Linked DNA regions of Homo sapiens. The main gene of each other region encodes a partner of the protein of the gene in region 2 in a complex. Each region holds a gene or a part of one and is shown on either strand. Other genes may lie near its edges. A codon is read from its position in the direction of its gene.

Region 1 (9,674 bases), on a different chromosome or scaffold from region 2:
TGGGAAGGAAGGAGCAGGAAGGAGATGAGGAAAGGTTCTCAGAAGAAGGTCATAATTCAGCTAAGCAGCAGGAGCTCATCAGTCAGGGGAAGGAGGGAAGTGGGCTTAAGACAGAGGGAATACCATGTGCAAAGGGAAAATCAGTTAAAAGAATACAGAGTATTTGAGGGACCTTAAGTACTGTAGTTCAAAATGGTTACAGGAGAGTATGTATCAAGGATTAAAAGGAGCACAGCAGAGCAGCAGGCACAGAGAGGATCTTAAAGGGCCTTATCTATCAAACTAAGAGGCTTAGAAGTATACCAGAGGCTGGCCAGGTGTGGTGGCTCATGCCTGTAATCTCAGCACTTTGGGAGGCCAAGGCGGGCAGATCACGGGGTCAGGAGTTTGAGACCAGCCTGACCAACATGGTGAAACCCCATCTCTACTAAAAATACAAAAATTAGCCGGGTATGGTGGCCTATGCCTGTAATCCCAGCTACTCAGGAGGCTGAGGCAAGAGAATCGTGTGAACCTGGGAGGCGGAGGTTGCAGTGAGCTGAGATCACGCCACTGCACTCCAGCCTGGGCAACAGAGCTAGACTCCATCTCAAAAACAAACAAACAAAAAAAAACAAACAAAAACAAAAAAAGTATACCAAAGGCCCTGGGAAGTCTTTTCAGCAGAGTAATATGATCAAAGTTGTATTTTAGGAGGATGAGACTGTTGGCATTATGAAGGGCAGATTTGGAAGGGAAGGCAACTGGGAATAAGAAGAAGATAAAATGGCATGGAAGGGATGAATCTGAAAGCAACTGGAGAACTGTATTTACAGGGCCTGGTAAATAGAAATGGTTAAAATAAAAGGAATGAAAGTAAGATTATTCCAAAATTCTGTAGCTGGGTAACTATGAGACTTTTGCATCAACAAAAGAAATAGAAATATCTGGATGGAAAGCAGGTTAGTTGGATTTTAGACATGTTGCTTCAAGACTCAGGAATTTTATATATACCCCTATCAGCTGTTAGACATTTTTTTTTCTGAAAATCATATTTAAATTAACTTGCTCCTTTTTTAAAACCTTGACTTAGTTATTATACTGAGGAAATCACAAGCTTGTTGGGCTAGTTATTTCTATCTAGTATACATTAAAATAAAATTACTAAGAATAAAGATTATCCACGTGTCAGTTAAAGTCATCTTGCACATAAAGCAAAGGTCACTGCAAAAAGAGCTACCTCTAGCTTCTGAGAGTCATTTTACTTTGGGTGGGGAGAGAAAACTAGTTTTAATGAAAAAGACGTCCTCTTGCTTGGGCTTAAAAGGTTGTATGGTACAGCAGGAGTAATAAGAACTAACTTTATAATCAAGTTCACAATGAATTATGGGAGGCCATGCTTTTGTCTTCAAGAATTTGAAATCAAAATTTATCTGGTCACTTTCCATGAAAATACATAGGTTAACCATAAAAATGTCCACAAGCAGTCTTCCAAGTGATAGCATTTATGTTCTAGGAATTGCAGTGTAAATAAAATCTGTCTTTCCCATATAAAAAGTGTTCCTACCTATGTTCATAGGTACAAAGCTATGTTATAAAGGAAGGGCCAAAGTCACATGGGTACTATATTTCATTAACTAGAAAGGATACTATATTATTCAACATAGAACTTGGCAAAGTATCTATGGGAAACAGGACAATTTAGTTTAGAGACTTCCAAGAGAGTAACTGTGAAGATAGGAGGTGAGGCTATGATGTGCCGAAGGTTTTCTTCTGGGACCAGAAATAAAATAACTACATTCCACACCCCACTGGCATCCATGAGTAGGAACACAGGCAATGAGACATAGAAGCATGTCAAAGAGCATCAGAAAACAACGGCTCCCCTGGCTTAAGCCAAACAGATATGAATTAAATGCGTTCAATGCATGCACCCTCACTCCTCCCCGACTATACAAATACATTGACCATCATCACATATTACTGATATAGAATGTTAATGGGAGAAAATGCTAAGGGTTAAAGTTATGGAAAAGGTTATCAAATTTATTTATAATGGAAGGCTAGATAAATAACATTTGCAATTAAAATAAAAATAAATTTGATTGCTTGATGATTGGGCCAGACACAGTTCAATACAAAGAAAGGTAGTATCACCTGTCTGGAGGGAAAGAACTGTGCTTGGTAATATACATTAAATGCAATCGTCTATGTATTGATCAATAAAAGGCTATAGAAATTATTCTGGCTAAAAGAAAACCAATGGAACCATTTACTCAGAATGAAACTGCAGTAAAAAAAGAACAATGAAACTGATGAAACCAGGACAAGCTGTCAGAAGGAGTGACTAGGAGACTAAACTATTAAACTATTCAAATCAATAAAATGTGATAAATACGCCACAGGAAGTCAGTTACTGACAATGCGAATATACGATATAAATTTAAAAAGAACACATAAAATTATAATGCAAACTGACTAAAAGAAGAAAAATGAACATTCTTTAGAAAACTTTCATCAGTAAATTGGAATTATTTGTTTGAGTTAAGGTCTTTGGTTTATTTAGCAAAGATGTGTTTGAAATTTTACAATTATTGTGGAAATGATTTGGGAAGAACAGCTATAGCTGTAATATGGGAACAGCAGAGTATAATGGTTTTAAATCAGCTTTCACACCTTCAGTTAGGGAATAAGGATGAAGCAGTCTTACTATTTAGGATATTGTCCTAAGAAAGCTCCAAACCAGAGGATGAATAAATGGTTGGAAAAGAAAATGATTTTATAGACAGCAGTCTATAAAGTCCTAACCATTAGACGCAAAGGCACCTGTGATGCATCACTGTATTAAAAGCTGACACAGCAGCACAATATTACTGAGGATTTTAACTCTCTGAACATTTATAAGCATTAGGTTTTACAGGTAAAGGAAGTGATAGGATAAATGTCATTCAGCCCAATTTTACACAGCTAGTAAGAGGGTAAAAATAATTAGAATTAAGGTCTTCTTTTAGTCCAGTGCTATCCCTACTCGGCTGTTCTTATCATTAAGAGCATTAAAGATGAACTATAATGAAAAAATGTAGCTAAAAAAAAGAGAGAAAGCAGAAAAAAAATCTTAACAGTATAATTGATATAAATAAGAAAAAAGACCTGGTTTTTAAGTTAACTCCAAACTGACTATAAGCCTAGAAGGGAACCATAATGGGCCAAAGGTGCCAGTGAAATACTGGAAAATTATGTCATATAAAGAATAATTGAAAAAACAGATTTATTCTAAAATAGGGGAAGATGTGTAGAGGTGGGTGATTGAAAGGGTGACACCTCTGATAAGTTGACTAGGTCTTAAAAAGATATCTAGGGCCATATTATGTTGTAGTGGGCTGAATGGTGGCCCTCAAAATGATACGTCTATGTTCTAATCCCCAGAACCTGTGAATGTCACCTTCCTTGGAAGAAAAGTGTCTGCAGACGAAATTATGTTAAGGGTCTAGAGATGAGGAGATCACCCAGGATTATACTGGTGGCCTCAAATTCAATGCAAATGTCCTTAGAAGAGATAGAGAGGACAGGAAGGCAATGTGAAGATGGATGCAGAGACTGGAGTAGCATGGCCACAAGCCAAGGAAGCTGCCAACCATCAGAAGCAGGAAGAGGCATGGAATAGATTCTCCCCTACAGCCTCTGTAGGGAGTATAGTCCTCTGAAACTGAATACATATGTAGACTGGAGATTAGATCTCTGTGCAAAACAGGGTAAGCGTAAGCGTAAGCTGAAAACAAAGGAATTATACCTACGGGCAGATTTTGGCACACTTTAAGTTACAAGCATTCTATTACACCTGTCCCAAATTGTAACAAGATATCTTCCTTGGCTGGAGGACTAACATGGGTGTTATTATACAAGGGTGATCCCTACACCTGGGAGAATAATTTTTCTCTAAACACCTTTCCCATTCTTAAATTTCATGTATATCAATAGTCCATTTAAATTCAGGAGTTACCATCATTCAATATTTAAAGCTGATCATAATAATGAAAGCATACAATATTACAACTCCTTATCCTGTATGAAAACAGTAAAACAAACAGAAGAATCCTAATTCATAAATGCCCTAATGATGACTCCATCCTTAGACCTTCACAGACATTTAAGATGGATCCCAAAATAGGGTGGGTCTATTGGAATGTATGGCCAACTTTTGGTTTAATATTATTTAAGACTCCAAGTGGACAACAGAAACTTCATAAAGGGGCAATTTTTTAAAAGTGCAGTTGTCTAAGTACTACTGTGCTTTCCAAATTAATGGGCAACTGCTTCAGGAGCCTAGTCACATGAATAATGAAATGAGATGAATAAAGACTGACATTTTTCGGAAACAAACAACCAAGGACAATCATGAAAACATTCTTTTGAGGTAGTTGCATGGTCTAAGTTTTGACATGTAATAAAATGCATAGTGCTAGACTGCTTATAAAGATAAAATAAAGACTCATTTGTTAGACAATTTTGGGGAGAAGTATAAAATACTGGGCTCCTCTGGCTTCTTATAGAAATGTGTTGTGGGTTTAAGAATAGCTCGTAAGAAGCAAAAGAGGAAGAGGTGGGTGGCAATTAATAAGTCTTTCTTTTTTTTTTTTTTTTCGAGATAGGGTTTTGTTTTGTCGCCAAAGCTAGAATGCAGTGGCACAATCACAGCTCACTGCAGTTTCAAACTCCTGGGCTCACATGATCTTCCTGCTTCAGCTTCCCAGCAGCTAGCACTACAGGGGCCCAGTAAGTCACCATGCTCAGCTAACTTAAAAACTTTTTTTTTTGTAGAGATGGGGGTCTCGCTTTGTTGCCCAGGCTGGTCTCAAACTCCTGGGCTCAAGCAATCCTGCCGAAGCATTCCAAAGTGTTGGGAGTAAGGTGTGAACCACTGCATCCAGCCTAATCTTAGTATTTAATTTAAATGACTCAAATATATACAAGAGTATTTACCTGTTCTGTTTCAAAGATATCCCGAAGGTGTTCAAGGCCAAGGCTTTTTAGAAATTGGCTGATATTCATGTCAAGACCAGCAACTAAAACAGAAACATATTAAAGATTCTCAGAAAGAATTCTCTAAATATAAAGAAAATTTCAGTATCCATTTAGACATGACTCTGACAACCTTGGCTGTCAGATGATTTTCCATGGCATAAAATAATACAGAATACACAGATTTAATTTAGACACTTTATTTCTGAAGTTGATTGGGAAGTAAAAACAGAGTGTTTTATCTTTATCAAATTAGTATTTGTATTCTAATATTATGGTTAGAATATAGAATTATAACTTATTGTAATTTATAAAAATATAGAGAATATTATACTAATTTTAACATTATAGTATAATTCTTATACTACAGAATGCTACTTATATAGAAACATCTAAAGCTTTTAATGAATTAAAAAATCTAAATGTATCAGCTATCATTTTAGTTTTCATTCCTGAAATGACCTCTCAGTTGTGTTCTGACACAATTTCAGTATAAGTGGTTCAATAAGATGCTATGGTTGTAAACAGATGCTCTAGAATATACAGAAATAAGAACAACGACAATGCCAAGAAACGTGGCAGCCTTCTATGAAGAAATATTTCTTGTAAGATGTTGTGTGTATGAAAATTTACAGACAGGACGTCTCTAATTGAGGCATTCAATAGTTATCAATAGAAAAAAGTCATTCTGCTCCACTAACAAAAGGTATAAATAAATAAGCATTCATGGGGTCTACTCACCTTCTCCTTCCTTCCTTTCTGTTCCCGCGGCGCCATCCCCTGCATTGGAGGCTCCTCCTACGGCCAACTCTGCTAAAGGGCCAGTGAGGTTGTCTATGCTGCTGGCAGCCGAGAGGCAGGAGGGGGTGGATGCTGGTGAGATCAGAGAGGCACTCACTACAGTAGCCTGAGGTTTAAAACAGGTAGGTAAGGCCTCTGGGGGCATGGCATCTATCAGCAAAGCTCTGATATCGTCAGCCTAAAAAAATGATTAAAAACAAAAACCATGAAAATACTATATATTAAAATGGTAAGTTTTTCACTGATAACCAAATACTTTGTGGATTTTTTCCTTAATGAATGCCTCATTATCACCTACTGGTTTTTGATCATTCCTTCTCCTATCCACAGCTCCAAAGAGTTTCAATAGTTTCAGTAGACAGAATTGGAGAAACTATGTAATTTTTAAAGATATTTCTTCTTTCATTTAAAAAAAAGCACTTTCAGTGTTAACTGTCACCCTTCTTTAGAAAAAATTTCTGTGTTTACTATATTTTGTTTACGTTTAAACAGCTATAATCTGGTTATTTACTTCACACTTAATAATTTCATGTACAATTAACATCTGGTGAAATTTCAAAGGGATGACACTTTAATTTAGCTCATTTATTCATAAACTTTTCAGTTTTTAAGTATTAGATGCAACTGCTTTTCGAGTATGCGGGAGATAGTCTCCAAAGACAGCCACCCATCAATTCCTTCCTCCCGTCATGTATGCCTCCCCTTGAATTTCTGCCCCCTACCCGCCGAATGTGGTTTGCCCTGTGAGTTGTCTTGACCAATAGAATGGAGAAGAAGTGACATTCTGAGGCTTTTGAGCCAGGCTTTAAGTGGATTGGCAGTGTCTACTTTTACTCTCTTAGAAGCCATCTGCCATGTTGTACAGAAGTTTGGGCTAGACTACTGAGTGGTGAGATCCTATGCAGGGAGAGCCCTGCGGGATGAAAGGCCATCTTGGAAGCTCCAGCCTCTGCTGAGTTCCCAGGTGCAGGTAACTGCAAAACCAGAACCACCCAGCTGAGCCCAGTCAACTCCCAGACGTGTGAGAAATAATAAATTGTCACGTTAAACCCTCAGTGGGTTTGGGGGTGGCTTAGTGGGCAGCAATAGAGAAATGAAATGCACACCAGTACCTGGAAGTGGGGTGCTGGTGGACATGTGGCTTTGGTTGGAGGCGTGAAGGGTGGCCTGGTTATTGCTGAGGGAGGCTGTGAATGGAAGATAGATAGGCAAGTGCTACTGAAGGCGAGAGAAAGGGGACTAATGCTGTGTAGCAGAAAGTTTGGCAACGCTGCCACAGGAGGTCTTACGGAAGGTAGAACGTAAACCTAAATAAATTTGTAAATTTGGCTAAGGAAATTTCCAGAACAAATTCTGCCTTGTCAACTGGACTGGTGTGTTTATCTGCCCATGATAAGGTACAGGAAGAGAGAAAGGAACTGTCCAGTTCTCTTTAAGGAAATGTATTCACCTAACATTTGCTAGCTTAGAAAACAAAATTATTCACCATTCCCAGCCTCTCCATCAGCAAAAGTTTCTTCAAGTAAGGCACAGCCTCAGGCCAAAGGTCAAATCCAGCGTGCTGACAGGAAAACATGGCCTCAGAATAAAAATCAACTAGAGGTACAGATATATTACCTCAAAATCTTTAAAAAACCTCTAAGGTGGTACCTTGTGAATTCCCTTGGCTAGATGAAAGAGCTTCAAAGGATCTTATGGGCATTGTCCCACTGCACCTTTACTTGGATTCCATGTTAGAGAGGGACCTGTCTTGAAAAGATTTGTGGGTGGAGCTTTTGGCTGATGGAGTGGTGTGTAATTTGATGGGAAATCCAAAAGTTTACAAAGGAAGAGTTGTACTAGTTTGGACTAAAAGGGACAGGTAGATCAAAATGATAAAAGGCTCAGGGTCCCGAAAATTTCTAGGAGCAGGGAACAGGTTGAGAAAGCCACTTGGCTGTAAATATGATCCATTTCTTATGAAAAGAGAAGGATAATTCAGAGGGCATGGCCAAGAGCTACAGAGGCTATGTACAGTGGTTCACACCTGTAATCCCAGCACTTTGGGAGGCTGAGGAAGGAGGCTGAGGGAGGAGCCCAGAAGTTCAAGACTAACCTGGGCAACATAGCAAGACCCTGTCTCTACAAAAAGTAAAAACAAAAAAAATAGCCAGGCATAGTGGCATGTGCCTGTAGTCCCAGCTACTCAGGAGATTGAGATACGAGGATGGCTTGAATCTAAGAGGTTGGGGTTGTGGTGAGCCATGATCACGCCACTGCACTCTGGCTTGGGTGACATAGCCAGACTGTGTCTTAAGGGGGAAAAAAAAAAAAAAGAAAAGAAAAAAAAGGAAAAAAAAAGACAGCCACAGTGAACCACTCCCTGGGAGCAGAACTGGGCCCTAATCAGGGATCATTCCCTAACTCCAGAGTAGATGGCCCTGATAACATGTGTCTGGCTGAATTTTAGAATTGCTAAGGACCCAGTGATGACTATCTGCCCCCTGTTGGTGGGGGGAGCACGTGGCAGGTGAGTGTAATTTGAATGTGGGAAAAATAGATTTAATTTGTATTCACAGGGAAGACTGTGGCTGATTAAAGATGGCCACGAAATTTTTGCTTCTCCTTTCAAAGAAGGTGGAATCTGTTTTCCTATCCCTTGAACCTGAGCTGACTTCATGACTTGCTTTGCACAACAGAATGTGGCAGAAGTGACAGCATGTCAGTTCCAGGCTTAGCCTTAAAGAACAATGACAGCCTCTGCTTTCTCCCTCTTGAGATACAATTATTCTGTGAAGAAATTCTAACAAGACCACTTAATGATGAGATGCCACATGGGACTAGAGAGGCCCCTGCCTTCTAGTTGTATCTGTCAAGGCCCCAGGCATATGAATGAAGCCGTCTTTATGTTTCTGCCCCAGCCACCAGCTATATGCAGTTGCACAAGTGACCCCAGGTAAGACCAGAAGAATCTCCTAGCCAACATACAGAATCATAAGAAATAATAAGTCATTATTATTTTAAGCCACTGGGTGTTTTGAAACAGTTTGTTACGCAGCAATCAATAAATGAAACAGAACATAACTTGAAAAAACATTTCTGGCTTAAAAATTAGAAATTACTGTGACTATACAGTAACTCCCTGGTTTTCAGAAAGTTCACGGAAGATGATGCAGTGCTTAACTTTGCAGTTAAATAATACTGCCCAGAGTTAATTTTTCTTTGACTATCTCACAGACTTAGGTAAATTATCATGAACATTAGTTGCTCTACAATAACATGCCAAATATAGAAGGTACAAGATATTTTACTAAATATAATTCTTTGAGGGTACACTCTAAAAACATGTTTTCTTAAGATCCATGTTTTCCCAGCAGGCTAAGAATGGCAAAAAATTAAATTAACTTACTGTTTAGTTTGTCTTAAGAGTTTTAAATTATATTTTCATAGAAAAAGTGTGAACTTCAAAAATTTTCAGAAGATCTCTGTTCTAAGTGAAATAAACACGACTAAAAGTAAGCTGGTGAACCCGAGAATCTGATGTCATCTGTGAAAGTAGAAGGAACAATAATCAGTATCTGAAATGAGGACTTACTGTTGCCAGATCCAGAGGCGTCTGGCCTTCCTGGTTCTTCATGGTGGGGTCTGCACCATGCGCTAGGAGGAGGGCGCACAGCTGCGTCCTTCCTTTCTGGGCTGCTTCATGGAGGGGAGTAAACGCCCACTTATCTGTTGCATTTACACACGTGTTGTATTTTATCAATAAAGCCGCTATGTCAACATGCTGAAAAAAAAGAAAAGGATACAAAGAGTTAAGAATGAGATCATCTGGTAAAGCACCATTGTGTATACCTGTTTTTATTTAACAATTCACTCCTCTGTATCTCCATTTTCAT
Region 2 (9,674 bases):
TAAATTCCCTAAATGCCATACAGAACAATTTTCTCTAGGGTTTTCCCTGTGTATATACCTCCCAGGGAACTTAGATGAGTGGTGTTGTAGTCACGGTAGGTAAACCCACAATGGTTTGAAACCCTGGGAGACTGGAAACAAACAAACAAAAAATTTAAATGCACTCATTTCACCATGAATGACCAGTTCTCTATGGAGGTAAATAATATCCTTATTCCTAAAGTCTCTCTCCAATCACTCATCTGTTCTATGGGTATTTCTCTAGGATTTTCAAATGACTGGCCTCCACAGAGTGATTTTCCGGCCATGCTTCTCTAGCTGTTATAGAAGACAACTCAACATTCTGAGGGAACTCTGAGTCTGCTCCTTTTGTCCATCTTCATGTTGAAACAGGCTATTGAGGAGGTTTGGGGGTGCTTTACTTATGCATATTTCCTGGTTATGGTCTTCAATCTTTTAAGAAGGTCAACTTTACCACCAATTGGCTTTCTATTAAAGAGTAAGGGTTGCTCTTAACTATAAAAATAAGACCAACATCTCTGATATCTTTCAGAAGTCTTTATTTTTTTGACTTACTAGTAAGTCAATACTTATTACGTTCACACTGAAGAAGATTTAAAGCGGACTGCTTGAGAGATACACAGTGCATCCATTTCTAGAAATGTATTTAAAAGTCCACAATACCCTGTAAGAGCCTACAAAGAGCCACGCTTAGGTGGTTGCATAGAATCGCTGGTGGAATTTTTGAAACTTCAGATTCCTGGGCCCCATTCCGAAGAAAGTCTGAGGGGTGTGGGGGAGAGAGGTTTAGAAACCAGAGTCAAACCATAAATTTATCCGGGACAAAGAGCTACATCCTCACCCCATGTATTTGGCCTGCCTCCTTATTGTGTGACTATTTTGTTTCTACTTTAAAATTTTATGTTCTCCTACACTGAGGATCACCCCTAAGAAATTCATTATTGGAAATCTCCATAGGGAATGAACTTATTAACAGAAAACTTTCAAGGAACATCTATCATATGTCGTTTATTATACTAGATGCTGGAGATATAAATAAGAACACCACCAGGCCTGGCATGGTGGCTTCATGCCTGTAATCCTAGCACTTTGGGAGGCTGAGGTGGGAGGACTGCCTGAGCTCAGGAATTTGAGTTCAAGACTGATCAACATGGTGAAGCCTTGTCTCTACTAAAATACAAAAAAATCAGCCCAGTGTGGTGGTATATGCCTGTAGTCTCAGCTACTCAGGAGGCTGAGGCACAAGAATTGCTTGAACCCGGCAGGCAGTGAGCTAAGATCATGCCACTGCACTTCAGCCTGGGCAACAAAGTGAAACTGTCTCAGAAAAAAAAAAAAGAATATCACCTAGTTCCTGCTTTCAAGGAATCTGAGAACACTGACGATACTGTTTATTCTACCAGGTCTTACTCTCAGGATCCAACCGTACTCTCCTGGAACATCAGCTTATTTTTAACTTGTAGACAGTGTAGAGAAGTTCCAGAGCCAACTCTGCCTGCTTCCTCTAGAGAAATTTATAAAACCTTACGCAATACACTTCATTCCAATCTTCACTAGTGTTTCCTTATTTTTTAAAGAAATCTGGGTGTGCTATATTGTAAGGACTTCAGATACTTCTTGGATAAGACAAGAGTAATATAAGTAAAATAGTAACTCGGACAACGCTCTTCTCTCCAGCATAATTTCTGTTTTATAAATACAGCCTAGAGCCATGCTGCTTAACCTCAGAATTATCTGAAGATCTCTTTAAGATAGCACTGTATCAGATCCTTTCTCCAGAGATTCTGACTCCAGTGTCTCTTAAGTGGCCTTAGGTAGGGTGTGCTGTTCACACTCAGAAAAAAAAACCCTACTCACTCTGATCCCCACACTGACAGCAAAGGATGGCTGGCTGAAAATCTCAACAACAGTATTCAGGTAAGTTTGCTCCCCTACTCACTCTGATCCACACACTGACAGCAAAGGATGGCTGGCTGAAAATCTCAACAACAGTATTCAGGTAAGTTTGCTCCCCTACTCACTCTGATCCACACACTGACAGCAAAGGATGGCTGGCTGAAAATCTCAACAACAGTATTCAGGTAAGTTTGCTCCCCTACTCACTCTGATCCACACACTGACAGCAAAGGATGGCTGGCTGAAAATCTCAACAACAGTATGCAGGTAAGTTTGCTCCCCTACTCACTCTGATCCACACACTGACAGCAAAGGATGGCTGGCTGAAAATCTCAACAACAGTATTCAGGTAAGTTTGCTCCCCTACTCACTCTGATCCACACACTGACAGCAAAGGATGGCTGGCTGAAAATCTCAACAACAGTATTCAGGTAAGTTTGCTCCCCTACTCACTCTGTTCCCTACACTGACAGCAAAGGATGGCTGGCTGAAAATCTCAACAACAGTATTCAGGTAAGTTTGCTCCCCTACTCATTCTGATCCACACACTGACAGCAAAGGATGGCTGGCTGAAAATCTCAACAACAGTATTCAGGTAAGTTTGCTCCCCTACTCACTCTGATCCACACACTGACAGCAAAGAATGGCTGGCTGAAAATCTCAACAACAGTATTCAGGTAAGTTTGCTCCCCTACTCATTCTGATCCCCACACTGACAGCAAAGAATGGCTGGCTGAAAATCTCAACAACAGTATTCAGGTAAGTTTGCTCCCCTACTCATTCTGATCCCCACACTGACAGCAAAGAATGGCTGGCTGAAAATCTCAACAACAGTATTCAGGTAAGTTTGCTCCCCTACTCATTCTGATCCCCACACTGACAGCAAAGAATGGCTGGCTGAAAATCTCAACAAAAGTATTCAGGTAAGTTTGCCTTTGCAGTAAGCAGATCTAGGGAAGCAGCATGAAATGAACCAAAAAATACTTTCCCATCATTTATTATCTCAGTAGGGAACGAATGGTGCTGGTGAACTGATACGCATGAATTTCTCGATCACATTTTAGCAGAAGAGGAACAAATACTAATTTGATTAATATAATATGAATTAGTACTCTTAATTGGAATATCACTCAGTAGAAATTGAATTTTATGAGGTCTTATGTTTCAGCTTTAACGAGAAGATTTTGCAGGGAGGAAAAAAATCATTCTGTTGGATTTTATGAACAAGATTTCCTTTTATTATTTCCACTAGTCACTGGTAATACTAGTGAACACCTGAGAGATTAAAATACAGATTTGCTTTGAGATCCTGGAAGTATTATACCAAATTAAATTACTTACTTTGAAAACCATGAGAAGAATCAGAAGAGGATGGCATGGACATTAAAATAAAATTTCCCTATTAATAATAGGGAATAAATGGTTCTAATGAAACATTAGTCTTATTCAATTATGATATGTGAAACTATCCTGCAACAGAGAACAAATTTCTTAATATAATCTCAAAGATAACAGTAATAGAAACCAATCTTTTAAACAACAATCTCACTCTGTAAATTTATGGACTTGGCATGTTCTACTTCTACTAATTCAAACCAAGTGCATATTTCCGTCAAGTCTATGGAGGATACAATGTTTCCTACAGAAGTAGTATTACCACTGCTTTCTAAATAACCCACGCTGAAAGGTAACTATAAAAGTTATCTAGGAATAGGAATTGACCATTTCCATCTCTTCATCTTTTATTCTGGTTCCTCCCAGAAATATATCAACATTCTAAGATTATTTTGCATGGTAAAAACAGACATGAAAATATATGTCCAATACCTAGTACTGCATTTTTTAAAAATTACAAAACACCATGTAAAGTGTATGGTCAGATGTATTGATCATGAAAATGGATGCAGTTATGCACACATGGTCTTTTCACAGAGAAAGAAAAAAGATGACAAATGTAAAATGAGGATGGGGCAAGGCTAGTCCTTAATAGATAGGAATATTAGTTGGAAATATGTATTCGTTTGACTAAGCAGAAATAAAATATGTTAACTCTGAAAATTTGGAGAGATGAGAAACAGACAGGATGAAGAGGAGGAGGATATATAGAACTTAATATTTTGGTATCACAAAATATAGGTGAGCCAAGAATAAAACTGGAGCTTAACCAATGAATGGAGGATTCACCTGTGTCTGGGAGCTTAGGTACCACAACTGCTTATAGTACACTATGCAGCCCCTTCCTCCCACTAATAACAAGAATAGTCACATGTGAATGGAATAAGTAAATGTTAAGGGAACAATAACACAGTAGCTCCATCTTGGGGCAGGTTCTGAGGAGTGATTTGGAAAGAATATGTACAGAATGCAAAGCATGAAATCACAAAGGGACAGAAATGTTTTAAAAATGAAAGGAACTATAATATAGTTACTACACTGTGATTTGAGCTTAGATACCTCTTGACATCTACTAAAAACTACATTGTTGTGGACCCACATAGCTTCACCTGCTCTACGCGGTAGCCTTGTACACGTGGGGGAAAAGTGCAGCCCTACATAATGGTAGAGTTCACCAGCCACTATAATGGTGGTATTCTCCATAGCACTGTAGTATCCAAATGTTGCTGTGATACCATTATCTTTTTAAAAAATGCTGAATTATCTGCCTCTCAGGATCAAAATCAACGACAATTATTTGATCTACATGAAAATAAGTTAAGTATCTGGACAGATTTGTGCATGCCTGCGACAGTCACAATACTACATTGTAGCACTGTAAAACAATCTTCTATTGAAGTAATAATTCCTTCTAAAGTTCAAATGATAATGCTGAAGCCCAACCAGGTAATGCTGCAAGGAAACCTCTGTCTGCGAAAGATGAAATTAAACAAACAAAAGCTGGAACTACTTCCTTAAAACACAAAACATGCAGATCTTGCAAAAAAAAAAAGTTATTCAATAATATCCACTAGCAGTTATAAAAAGAGACAAATGAGTTTGAGGAAAATATATGCGCTTAATTTATAGCTTCTCTGAGAAATAGCATTTTCTATACCAGAAAACATGTTGCCCTAAAACATATTTGCAACTCAGTGAAGAGTAATCTTTTAAGAAAATAAAAAGACAATATATTTTCAATTTTACTAGAAACTATTTTCTTAATTCCTATACAGTGTTTACTTTGACTTATTGATTTCATCAGCTAATAGTTCATTTCAGAATAATGTTTTTAAATATTTATATGTTTATGCATTTATATCTTTGGTTTACAGGTCTATACACTTACTTTTTACCTGTGATATACTAAATAGTTTTGGTCAATTTTCTCTTAATCTTAAGAATTCCGAAAAACATCAAATAGTTATTAATGGTAGTATTTTACTATTGCACAAAGTATATATGAATATACCGGTAGTATTATTTTGGCCAAATTTAAAATTACTACTCTTGATAGCTTTATTGAATTGATACTCTTGATAGCTTTATTGAATTGATACTCTTGATAGCTTTAGTGAATTGGTTTGGGTTTCTTGCTGATTTCACAGCTTTCTCTGCTACTTGCCAAGAAAATTCAAGCCCACCCAACACAGGCAGAGTAGGTAGAGGGAAAGTCAACAGAATTATCTCATTTATCTTGAAAAACATATAAATATATACAGTGGTGTCTGGCAAAAAGGTAAACTAAATTGTTAACTGTGATAATCTGAGTGATGGAATTTGAAATGATTTCTACTGATTTCCTCACACTTTAAGATAGCTAAAACTTTTTAATAATGAGCATATCTTATTATAAAAATAATATTGATAATCAAACACAACTTAATAAAAATGGACAAACCTGTTGTCACAGAAGTCTCTGACTCTCTCAATTTCTGAGACGCTAAAAGCTTTTCCTGCAAAGCTTTCTGGGCAAGTTGTGCATCCCATTCTTCTAGTTCTTTTTCAAATCGTTGGTTGTCTTCCTCAACAAAATCTCTCAAATCCGGTGGTAATGTTTCTATACCAACAAGGGGCTGCCCAGTTTCTTTATTAAACTCCTCTGCAAATCATATTTCAAAAACTAGTATAAAATTAAGAATTAAAGGGAAAATGCAAAGCTCAAAATAGACTGCATTTCAAATAGAATTTAAACTATGAATTATTACCACTCAGCCAATCATATTACTTAAGAATTACTATTGCTTAGCAAATAATTATTATCTACAAAACTTTTTAAAACTCAAACAAATGCTCAGAAAAACAATGATGAAAATATTTGATAATCCATCATAGGTAATGGTCTCAGATTTTTTTTTATCTTAAGAGTAGAAGTGACAGAAAATACAAAGCCAAAGCCAAGTTTTTTGTTGCTGTTGTTGTTTGTTTTTTTGAGACAGAGTGTCATGCTGTCACTCAGGCTGGAGTGCAGTGACACAATCTCGGCTCACTGCAACCTCCGCCTTCCGGGTTCAGACGATTCTCCCGCCTCAGCCTCCCGGGTAGCTGAGACTACAGGTGCCCACCACCAAGCCCGGCTAATTTTTTTGTATTTTTAGTAGAATGGGGTTTCACTGTGTTAGCCAGGATGGTCTCGATCTCCTGACCTCATGATCTGCCCACCTTGGCCTCCCAAAGTGCTGGGATTACAGGCATAAGCCACCGCGCCCGGCCATTTTTTTTTTTCTTTGCTACTCTAACAGTGATGTAATACTACTTCTGCCACTATTGGAAAATACCAGATGTTTGATCACTTAAAAAGTAAAACTTTTCACAAAATGTAAACAACTCATAATCATGTTAACCTTATTAGCTCAAAATAAAATGAAAATTGTTTGTCATATGAAGAAATTAAGTAGACTTAAATATGCAATTATGAAAATTAATATAGCAAGATCTTAAAAACAATAGAGTATTCAGAAGAATTACTGAACTTCTACTACACACACAGAAAAATAACTTCATTTTTTTAGTCAGAAGTGGACTGCCTAGCTGATTCTGAATGACTAAATATAAAAAGATTATTTTTATCAGTTTCAATAAACCTTTATTATTTTCTATATGCAAAGCATATATCAGAATATCAGCATTAAAAAGATTCAGACATAGTATGACATGATCTCTGGCTCTGAGCAGATAAGAGAGAAATGTGCAAGACAAGTCATCACACAGTTCCAATACACAACAGTAAATGCCCAGTAGACAGATGCCAGGACAGCATAAGGAGAGATACTTTTTGGCAGATCAAGAAATAGTTTGCAGGGGAAATGACACCTGAATTGAATCTTGACAGATAAACAAGAATTAGGCAAAAGAATTACTAGCAAAAAATAAAACATATACGAACATGCAAACATAAATGTGTGAAATGGTTTGATATGAGCAGATACAGCAAGAAGTTCAGTAAGGATATAAATTCAAAAGGAACACTGGTGATCAATGAAGGTGGGGAGATAATCAGAGGCCAAGAACAGAGGCCATATATGTTAGGCTAAGGAATTAAATATTAAATGTGAGTCAATCTGTGGAACAGTCACTAAAGCATTTTTAGCAAGGACGAAAAAGGTCATATTTACCTTTAATAGTTGACTTGGAATACAAAATATATACGAATTCTTAGCCCTGACGACATTACTTTTCAATTCAGTCTTGTCAAAACCCAGTAGCATTTCCTAACCACATCCTTCATCGTCTGAGTGAATTACACTTAACTAATCACACCACATACCAGAGCCACTTTTATGACTATTTAAAAATACACACCACCCTATATATTCTTACCTTGTATTAGGAACTGTGCCTTATCATTTATGTACATTAAACAGTATGCACTGGCATTTCTATAACCACCAAAAGAGTCCCTCACTAGCTCTTCCCATGATGATTTTGTCACAGCAATATCATTGTACTTCATCCATCTGCTTTCACGATGATCAAAAATATATGCCCAGTAGTGCCCAGCATTAGCTTGGCCTTCGTGAACTAAAACGGCATGTAATCGATAAGGAACCTAAATGTGAAAAAAAGAAGAGTTAAACTGCAATTATGTAGTTTACTATATACCACATTCCATGAAACCCACAAACAACCTGTTTGGAGAAAACCATAAGAGCATTTTTTTTTTTAAATGAGAGAGAACTGGCTGGGCTTAAAAGTTTGAAAAAAACTAAACTATAAAACTTTAAAAAGACGGAATCTGAATAAGCTAAAGATATGCAAAGTTGATAGATTAAAAAGATGATTTTTGAAAAACTAAAAATGTATTTATTGTGTACATACTCATTGGCCTAATTGTTTATTTGAATAAAAAGCTTATAGTGGGCAGTTTTACATATAGCAAATGTGTCTACATCTTCAGAATTCTAAATTGACGGTTAACAAAATAGATTATATGATATACACCAGAAGTTAAAATGTAATGGAGTCCTTAAGTTTCTTCCCAAATCTTAATATCCTTTAACAACCATAGATTTTCTCCCATAAGACTTTTTAAAGATGCTATAGCCTTTTGAAAAACTTTGGTAGATTTTACTGTAAAATAGTAAGGGTACACAACACATACGGTGTGAAAATACAACTGAATGGGGAAAACTTGTCATGAATTTTGTTATAAATTTGTTATAAAAGTTTCCCCATTCAGATGAACTGTCACATTGTACATATTGCAAGCCCTTATTATTTTACAATAAGATTTGCCAAAATTTTAAAACAAAACATGTAAAGAAAAATTAGATTAAGATAATGTAAAGGTAAATTAAAATATATGTAAATAATTTTGACAATGATTACTAGCTCAAAATTTCACTTACTTGTATCATAGATTTGTCAGAGTACATTAATTCAATTGTTCGATGGATTCTGGATATGCTTTCCTGCAAATCTAAGGATATAAGGTGTCATTTAATGATTAACAGCAAATGTGTTTCTACTTATAAGATAAGGACTAATGTTTTTCCTACAAACATGTTAGAGGAATAGGAAAATTTTCCTAAAACTTTTCTTAAAAAACATTACCATTTGAAATCTGTAGAAAATGAATTATAGTTATTCTTAATAAAAGACACAGTACAAATGCATACTTTAAAAACAACACAAATATGATTTATCTAGAAAATGTGCAGAGCCAATAAAAGTGAATTTTGTTCAAATCTATAAAGGAGAGTTTCAATGAAAATGAAAGCTAAGCTTCCTTACATATTGCTATAACACAAGTAAACTTAAGAACAAAGTAAAACATGTTCACCACATATCTTGTACACACACATAACTGAATAAAAATCGACTATAATCACCAGTGAAAATAAAATTATGGCACTCCCATGACAATTATTTCTACTTCTAGTAGAAAATAATCCTACAAAATTGTTCAGATAGGGATGTTCACAGTCATATTGTCCACAATAATTTTTAAAAAAGAGATAACCTAAATATCTGTCAATAAGGAAACGGTTAGATTGTAACCACATCATATTGTGAAGCTGCTGAACCAATCAGGAAGAAACCTTGAAAAACTATAAAAGAAACTGGCTAACTTTAGAGTGGGGAAAGACCTGTCTTAAGCCTGTCAGAAAACTAGTAACCTTATAGGAAAAGATAAGATCCTCCCTGCCCAACACTTTAAAAAATCTACATTATAAAAAGAAAACAAAACCAACATAAAATCAAATGAAAAACTGGGAAAATAATATCTGCAGCATATGTGATATTATAGGTAAAGTGTTAATATCCACAATACATTAAACTTTCTATTAAGTAATAAGAAAAATACAAATAGCTCAATACTT

The links.
Region 1: the proteins of USP25 (region 2) and TNKS are in contact, whole or in part, in a crystal structure (PDB 5GP7), measured with the Homo sapiens proteins. Residues at the interface, in NP_037528.3 of Homo sapiens: Ser1046, Ser1048, Arg1049, Thr1050, Pro1051, Ala1052, Asp1053, Gly1054, Arg1055; in NP_003738.2 of Homo sapiens: Arg836, Ser838, His842, Leu843, Gly846, Tyr847, Leu871, Asn876, Ser879, Tyr880, His882 (codon at 9,562), Asp900 (codon at 9,508), Trp902 (codon at 9,502), Phe904 (codon at 9,496), Glu909 (codon at 9,481), Gln912 (codon at 9,472), Lys913 (codon at 9,469), Gln934 (codon at 9,406), Glu935 (codon at 9,403).

The regions. Positions count from the first base shown.
Region 1 is NC_000008.11:9,747,912-9,757,585, reverse strand, and holds part of TNKS (poly [ADP-ribose] polymerase tankyrase-1), read right to left. Parts: intron 9,563-9,674; coding exon 9,374-9,562; intron 5,978-9,373; coding exon 5,740-5,977; intron 5,043-5,739; coding exon 4,960-5,042; intron 1-4,959.
Region 2 is NC_000021.9:15,829,627-15,839,300, reverse strand, and holds part of USP25 (ubiquitin carboxyl-terminal hydrolase 25), read right to left. Parts: intron 8,771-9,674; coding exon 8,700-8,770; intron 7,901-8,699; coding exon 7,672-7,900; intron 5,975-7,671; coding exon of another isoform or gene 5,961-5,974; exon of another isoform or gene 5,954-5,960; coding exon 5,753-5,953; intron 1-5,752. UniProt on the Homo sapiens protein: Deubiquitinating enzyme that hydrolyzes ubiquitin moieties conjugated to substrates and thus, functions in various biological processes including inflammation and immune response.